Regions from separate parts of the Homo sapiens genome. Here region 1 is linked to region 2. The links come from fine-mapping of genetic effects on gene expression. A gene starts in region 2. The other region holds a variant in brackets. All regions are shown on one strand. Distances are from middle to middle.

What was found. PIP is the estimated chance that this variant, and not a neighbour inherited with it, causes the effect.
Region 1: its variant is the best candidate, but not a certain one, in a credible set for the expression of FAIM in whole blood (TOPMed, PIP 0.55).

Annotation. Positions count from the first base shown.
Region 1 is chr3:138,735,224-138,739,223 of GRCh38, reverse strand. PIK3CB (phosphatidylinositol-4,5-bisphosphate 3-kinase catalytic subunit beta) reads left to right here. Exons shown (of 24, transcript NM_006219.3): 6 at 1,338-1,517. Among named protein-coding and RNA genes, the nearest start is that of PIK3CB, 98 kb to the left of the region's middle. The variant T/C (reference allele first, on the strand shown) is at 1,945.
Region 2 is chr3:138,607,017-138,611,546 of GRCh38, reverse strand. FAIM (Fas apoptotic inhibitory molecule) reads right to left here and starts at 2,776. Exons shown (of 6, transcript NM_001033031.2): 1 at 2,610-2,776. RefSeq lists an enhancer at 2,039-2,128 and a silencer at 2,229-2,688.

The DNA of each region.
Region 1 (4,000 bases), 130 kb before region 2:
TCTGCCCACCTCGGCCTCCCAAAGTGCTGGGATTACAGATGTAAGCCAGCGTGCACGGCCTCTGGGGTCTCTTTTATAAGGACACTAATCCCATTCATGAGGACTCTGCCCTCATGACCTAATCACATCCCAAAGTTTTCACTTCCAAATATCATCACATTAGAGATTAGGTTTCTACATATGAATTCGCCAGGGGAGACACAAACATTCAGTCTATGGCAGGCACCAACTCATAGAAAACACAGAAGAACAAGTAAAATACTGGAAAAAATAGATGTGAAATAGTAAGTTTAGTTTTTAAAAGTTTGAATGTAAGACATCTTAAATTCAGGGGAGTGATTTATTTAAATTAAATTAGTGGAAAATATTATGGAATTGATGTCAGGTCAGTATAGAGAATAGCAATAAGTTAGTTGTTCAGAGTAGCAGTTGGTTGCTTTGGGAGATAGCTTCTTATATCTTTAGTATATGATCATATAATGAAAAATTACCTTGCTAGATTATGAGAGGATTCAGGTGTTAACTGTATCATTCAGTCTTATGATGAACAGATTTGGTAATGCTATATCGATTCCAAACTATATCTTCATTTTTAATTGATTAGAATTTCTATATGTTTCTATTTACATGTCTCTAAAATTGGACGTAATTGCTAATTTATGGTTTAATTCGTATAAAGTATGGCTGTCTTCTTACCAGTGAGAAATGTGTAAGTTTTTAAAAATATATATACAAAATATAGCTGCAGTATGTGGCCGGGCATGGTGGCTCGTGCCTGTAATCCCAGCACTTTGGGAGGCTGAGGCAGGCGGATCACAAGGTCAGGAGTTTGAGACTAGCCTGGACAACATGGTGAAACCCTGTCTCTACTAAAGATACAAAAAATTAGCCAGGCGTGGTGGTGCACGCCTGTAATCCTAGCTCCTCAGGAGGCTGAGACAGGAGAATTGCTTGAACCTGGGAGACAGAGGTTGCAGTGAGCCAAGATCGAGCCATTGCGCTCCAGCCTGGGGGACAGTGTGAGACTCTGTCTCAAAAAAAAAAAGATGAGATGTTCATTGGAAAATGCCTAATGGTAACCTTTAGTTAAATATTAATCTTACCTGTGGAAGCTGTGCACTATGAATACAGTAAGATGACTTTCAAATTATCAGAAATCTTTATCTTTCAGTAAACTTGTCTACATTCTAAATATGCATCCATATAAAATTTGTTAAGGATGTACCCATATAAATATTATGTACATTTGTACATATTATTACATAATGATTGTAATGTGATTTTTCAGCATAAATATAACATTTACTGCTTTTTTCCCCATCTCCCTCCCCCTTCAGGACGTGTTTAGCTTTCAAGTGTCTCCTAATATGAATCCTATCAAAGTAAATGAATTGGCAATCCAAAAACGTTTGACTATTCATGGGAAGGAAGATGAAGTTAGCCCCTATGATTATGTGTTGCAAGTCAGCGGGAGAGTAGAATATGTTTTTGGTGATCATCCACTAATTCAGTTCCAGGTATGTATATTAACTATTAATTTACCAGAAAAGTCTATGAGTATATATATATATATATATATTTTATTTCTGACTTTAAAAATGTGTTCCCACACTGGAACATTTGGAATATACAGAAAATTATACAGTATTAAATAGTAAATATTCATAATAGTACTTACCTCTGAGATAATCATTGTTACCCTTTTGGCATGTTTTTGTCACTTTTTGCAGTTATGTTTGTATTTTAGCATAATGATTGTACAGACAAATATGTGTATGTATATGTTTGTATTCTGCTTTGCTTTTTTTTTTTTTTTTTTTTTTTTTTTTGAGACAGAGTGTTGCTCTGTCGCCTAGGCTGGAGTGCAGTGGCATGCAGTCTTGGCTCACTGCAACCTTCATCTCCCAGGTTCAAGCAATTCTTGTGCCTCAGCCACCCGAGTAG[T/C]TGGGATTACAGGTGTGCGCCACCATGCCCAGCTTCTTTTTGTATTTTTAGTAGAGATGGGGTTTCACCATCTTGGCCAAGCTGGTCTCAAATTCCTGGCCTCAAGTGATCCGCCCAACTTGCTTGGCCTTTCCAAGTGCTGAGATTACAGCCATAAGCCACTGTGCCCGGCTCATTCGGCTGTTTTGATTGTTTTAGTTAGCCTTATAATTATTGTCTTATATCATTATGAATTTTTTTAACACTTATAGCTGCTTTCTATTTCATCATATAGTATAAACGTGAAATATTCTGGGGGAGGTAAAGTATTTAAAAATCGATTAAATGGTCATCCATTGAATTGTATAAAAACTTATTTGTGATTATCCATTAGCTAACTAAAGGAAAACTTTTCAATTCCAGTCTGAAATATTTATGCGTGGAATTTCCCTTGCCCCTTTTTTGTTACTTCCATGAATGGCAAGAATTTTGCAGGCATTAGGTTTGACCATTCTCAAAAGCCTTTATTAATCATTCGGGTATTTATTTATTTTCATTTAATTAAGAATTCTTTGAGAATATGCTTCTATACGGCACTGAATTGCCCCAGATTATTTTTGGAGTAAAGTGGAGTTTAAATATGCTATGTGCAGTGCAGCACCCCTCTCCCTATAAGGTATACTGTTTAAAGACTAGGTCCTTGGCTTTGCCTTCAAGTAACTTGAAGATGTTTTTGTTGAAATATCTTGGAGACTAAAAAATAGTCATTATGTAAGGAATATTATTATAAGTGCCCAGTTAGAGGTTAGTAGTTACAGAATTTTAGGAAAGTCTTGTTATTTTGTGATATTATTGTTGTTGTTGTTTAAACAAGAGGGGTATAGGCATGCCAATTATAAAGTAATATGTGTTTGAGAATATGGAGCTGCAATTTATTAGCAGATAACATGATGTTACACCTCTTCTCAGGTTTCTGGTGTGGCCCTCAATTTTTGTGGTTTAGTACATATAAGGTCCAGGAGCAGTTATAACTTATGTGCACAGCTTTGGGAGTTGTGGTATTCTGATAGTAAGCTGTTGAACTCTAGTCCATAAGAAGAAACAAGATGAAAAATGCTTGGTGGGCAACATAGAAGTACTGACTTTTCTTCATGTTCTGCCATCATTCAAGTAGATTTCTGTTTCTTTAATTTAACATTTCTTTTTACCTTAAGAGGTGTAAAGGAGAATGTATATTTTACCAGCATTATCCTCTATTATTATAAAGAAAAACAGAAGCATGTATGTGTTTTTGTGCAGGGTTAGACAGGAGAGACCCTGTACAAAAGAGAGAGAGAGAGAGAATATACAGTGTAGGCAAAGGAATGTGAGAGAAATGGATCTTTCATAGTGAAAAGTTTTTGGATGAATATATTTATCATAATATCATATATAACTTCTGAGAGACATTCTGGAAGTTTTTTTTCTCTGACAAAAATGTATTTTTAATGGTTCTGAATTGAATTACGATACATTGAATCACACTCTGGATCTGTATAGGAAATTCATTCTTCTGAGGAATACATTGGATTCCTATTCACTTTGTTAGGAATCTTTGGTAATATGAATAATCACCCCTTTTCTTATATGCCTCTGGAGAGTCATTCTAGTTTTGTGAAAATAGAACATCAAACTGGGATGATCGGTAGGTTTTTGATGGGAAGACGGCTGGTAATACTTGCCTAGAGCTCTGTGATGGAAAGGGGCCATCTCAGGGATCCATAGAAAGTGTGAATCTGCCACATGCGAACCACGTATTCAGCTTTTCTAGCCAAGCTGAAAGTATGGCTGAAGTATGACTTTAGTGTTAGACAAATGGGTTTAAATCTAGGTTTTACAGATACTAGGTGTGCAACTTAACCCTTCTGAGTTTCATTTCTTTAATATGTTAAATGAGTGTAATGAGATTAGCTGTAACATACAATAATCATCTAACTCATTTCTTTAGGTACTTAGGTGTTCAGTTAATGATAGCTATTTTTTGTATTGTGATTTAAAATTCTCATATGCTTAGGCTGGGCTTGGTGGCTCACACCTG
Region 2 (4,530 bases):
CACAGAGTTATTGCTTAATGGTTACTGTGTTTCTGTTTAAGGTATTGAAAAGTTTGGCAAATAGATAGTGACAATGATCGCACACTATTGTGAATGTACTTAATGCCCCTGAATTGTACACTAAAAAATTGTTAAAATGGCAAATCTATGTTGTATATATTTTACCACTTCAAAAAGTTAATTATATTAGAAAGAATTGTATACTTTAAATGGGTGAATTTTATGGTATGTGAGTTATATTTCAGTAACGTTGTTAAAAAAAAAAACAAAAAAAGAAAAAAAAATGCAGGTGTCCTGGCTGTAGTGTTTCTTGGGATGCAACTGCACCTGTAACCAAAAGATGATAACATCTGTCCTTGTCCCCAATTTCCACTTCACTCAGAAATATCTGTCACATAGATCTCTAAGTTACAAATTCAATTTAATAAACACATGTCATATTCTAAGTTCATCCAGCATACCAATAGTTATTGGGTACTTATGTACCAGGCTCTGGGCAGGGCACTAACCTCAGAGTGGCAGAGTCCGGAGATACCAAGAGATGATTATAGCACAACAGTGGGAGTGTCCTTATAAAGGGAAGCAGCATAGGATAGAATGGGCCATAGAGGAAGGGTCGTAGCTCTGCCGAAGAAGGCTTTGGTTTAAAACTTTGGAGAAAGTGGCCAGGCGCGATGGCTCACACCCCGTAATCCCAGCACTTTGGGAGGTCAAGGCGGTCGGATCACTTGAGGTCAATAGTTCAAGACCAGCCTGGACAAAACGGTGAAATCCTGTCTTTGCAAAAATAGAAAAATTTGCCGGGCATGGTAGCGCACGTCTGTAAATCCCAGCTACTCCGGAGGCTGAGGCACAAGAATCGCTTGAACCCGGGAGGTGGAGGTTGCAGTGAGCCGAGATCATGCCACTGCACTCCAGCCTGGGTGACAGAGGGAGATTCTGTCTGAAAAATAAAAAAATGAAACTTGGGAGCAAGAAATTAATCCACTGTTGTTTTTAAACTCTTATGCATGTACTTAATTTTCAAGATTCTATGACCAAACTGGAAAATGATAAATACAAAAAACCCTCTATTTTTGCAAATATTTTATTAAAATGTAAATTTAAAAAGATGAAAAACCATATTCCACTTACTTTCACTGATGGAGATGATACCAAGCACTTGAAACTTTTTACATGTCTTTAAAGAAAGCTTTTTGCGTATCTCATACGTACCCATCAATCTTTTAAAATCCCTTCCCTAGCAACCCAACACCTAAGTTTCAGAGCATGACTTAAACACCAACACGTTGCCACTGTTCATCTAATCCACCTGAATTTTGCCTTAACTTAGGTTTATTCTTACTGGGGACTGAAATGGTTCGTTCAAGATAAACCGAAGTCAGTTTAAAAATTACTAGATGATAGTAGTTACTAAGATGCTCATGGTTCCCTTTTCAGCAAAGGCCCCCAGGTAGGGCCAGCCAATAATGCAAGTCACACTCAAGTGTTGACATCTTCATCTCCGGGCCGGCCCCTTATGAAGTGAGGGGGGTCTCCAGTAAAATCACTCAGGAAGCTCCTCGAGCCAAGTATTCCCAAATGCTACTTACTGGAGGTACAAAAAGGAGAATAACTTTTCTGAGGGCCATTTCACAATCTATACCAGAAGCCTTGTGGTATAGACCGTGGATTCTATCTTGTTTTAGAACGAATCTTGTGCGATTCTTTCTACAGAAATGATCACGCTCAAAAACCCAGATACAACGATGCTCAATGAATTACTTTTTGCAATAACTAAAAACTGAAAACCACTTGTACGCTCACCATCAGGGAGAAACTACATTTAGTAAATCACAGTCCAAAGCCATGCCAAGAGTCAGGGATGGATGAGGTAGTCAACCTGACACACAGGAATGTACAGTCGAGAGAGAGAGAGAGAGAGAGAGAGAGTCGAGAGAGAGAGAGAGAGAGTCGAGAGAGAGAGAGTCGAGAGAGAGAGAGAGAGAGAGAGAGAGAGAGAGAGAGAGAGAGTTTCAGCACTTTATGATGCAGGTTCTGCAAAAACAAGCCCCGCTCATGTTACAAGGAAAAACCATCTGGAAGAATATACACCCTCATGTTAACGCAGCTTGTCTCTGGGGAGCAGCGGCACGGCTGCTTTGCTTGCTTCCTTGCTTTCTGTTCCACGTTTTCGACAGTGAGAAGTATTATCTTTAGAGGTCGCGAACAGGCCGGAGGAGGGTGCGGCAGGTCGCGGGGCAGGGCCTCGCTAGGCAGGGACGCCCCCGCACCGCCCCGGGCTGGCCCCGCGCCCCGCGCCCCGCCGCACCTCCACCTTTGCCGGCGGTGAGCGGGAGCCGCGTCCCGCCCCGAGGTCTGGGATCACCGGCGGGCCGGCTGGAAGCGTCCGGAACTCACCCAGCGTCTCACCCGCGCGGGTCTCACCGACCGCGCAAACACCGCCCGCCGCCGCCGCCCAGAGATGGCCGCCGCCGGCGCAGCAGGGCCGAGAGCGTGGGGACGCCGGGGGGCTGAGTGCAGGGGTTTCCAGGGTGCGGAGCGGGCGGGCCCGAGGCGTCCGGGCGGGCGCAGGCGCGACACCGACCCCACCCGGTCTGCTGCCTCACCTGTGCTCTGTGGGCCGCGGGAGGCTCTGGGGTAGGTTTCACCAAACAACCGGTTGGTTCCGACTCGGCTGCGTAGGCCGCGTGGCCTTGCTCCCCTGGCCGAGAAACAGGCGCAGCCGGCGCGGAGGTTGAAAGCTCTGCAGGCGCGAGTACCAAACGCGCCGACTGTTTGTCGCGCCTCTCAGGTCCCCTGGGGCGACCAGCGCAGGAGGCCACCCCTCCCGCCGCCACGGACCCAACCCTGGTCCTCTGCCTTAGCCGAAGGCCGCACCCTCCGCGCATAGGCCTTCCTCAGCCCCAACCCAGGACATCACCATGTCCCGCAGTGCGTCCAGTCTTCCTGCCAGCAAGTGTGGGTAGGAGCCGGCCGCTGGCCCCGCTCTGGGCTAGACGGTGGGGACATACTGGCGGGCAAAAACAGCCCTGTGCCTGCTCTGCAGCTATGGGGAAGGAATATCTGTTCATGGCAGCAATAGCATTCGCTCCTTAAAACCTCTTTATGAGTCTCATTCCTTTTTTAAAGACCCAAACTACTTAAGGTGGGCATGAAGCCCCCATGTGTGATCTAGCCTCTGCCTGCTTGGCTTCATTTAGGTCCTTAAAGGATGCAGGTTTCTTCTCGCCCAGGGCCTCTGCAAATGCTCTTCTCTCTGCCTGGACACTCCTCACCTCTTCCCTATTGTGAGAGTTCTTCATATATCATTTCTTAGATTACACTATCCTGGCCCATAAGACTTGCAGCATTGCTGGGTGTGGTGGCTCATACCTGTAATCACGGCATTTTGGGAGGCAGAGTGGCGGATCTCTTGAGTCCAGGAGTTCAAGACCAGCCTGGGCAACATGGTAAAAAAAAAAAAAAAGAGAGAGAGAGAATGAGAAAGAAGAAAAGAAAATAATTAGCGGCTCAGGCCTGTAATCCTAGCTACTTGGGACGCTGAGGTGGGAGAATTGCTTGGGCCCTGAAGGGAGGTAGAGGCTGCAGAGAGCTGTGATTGCACCACTACACTCCAGCCTGGGCAACAGAGCGAGACCCTGTTTCATTAAAAAAAACACACACAAAAAGAAACAGCCGGGCTCAGTGGCTCACGCCTGTAATCCCAGCACTTTGGGATGCTGAGGCAGGCATGGCAAAACCCCGTCACTACTGAAAATATAAAACTTAGAGGGGCGTGGTGGTGCATGCCTGTAGTCCCAACTACTTGGGAGGCTGAGGCAGGAGAATCGCTTCAACCTGGGAGGTGGAGGTTGGAGTGAGCTGAGATTGAGCCACTGCACTCCAGCCTGGGCGAAGAGCAAGACTCTGTCTCAAAAAAAAAAAAAAAAAAAAACAGCCGGGCACAGTGGCTTACACCTGTAATCCCAGCACTCTGGGAGGCCAGGTGCGGATTGCCTGAGGTCAGAAGTTTGAGACCAGCCTGGCCAACGTGGTGAAACCCTAGCTCTACTAAAAATACAAAAATTAGCCGGGCGTGGTGGCATGCGTCTGTAATCCCAGCTACTCAGGAGGCTGAGGCAGGAGAATCACTTGACCTTGGGAGGTGGCAGTTGCAGCGAACTGAGATCGCCTCACTGTACTGCAGCCTGAGCCACAGAGTGATACTTCGTCTCAAAAACAAAAACAAAAAAAACACAAAAATTGCAGCACCAGGGATTCTTCTTCCTAGCCCCTTTCAGGGTGTGCAATAATTTGTGTAATTTTTGCTTAATGTGTAACTTAACAGTAGACTGAGATCCATGAAGGCAGAGACCATGGCCGCTTGGCTCTCATTCTTGTATGTCTCACATCTGTACCGTGCAGGCCCATGTTAGCTCTGGTAAATATTTATTAAATGAATGAATGAATGAAGAGCAGGCCTGGGTAGTGTCTTAGGTGGCCTTGATTTTCAATTTAAGGAGGAGACAGTGTTGCCTACAGAGAGCG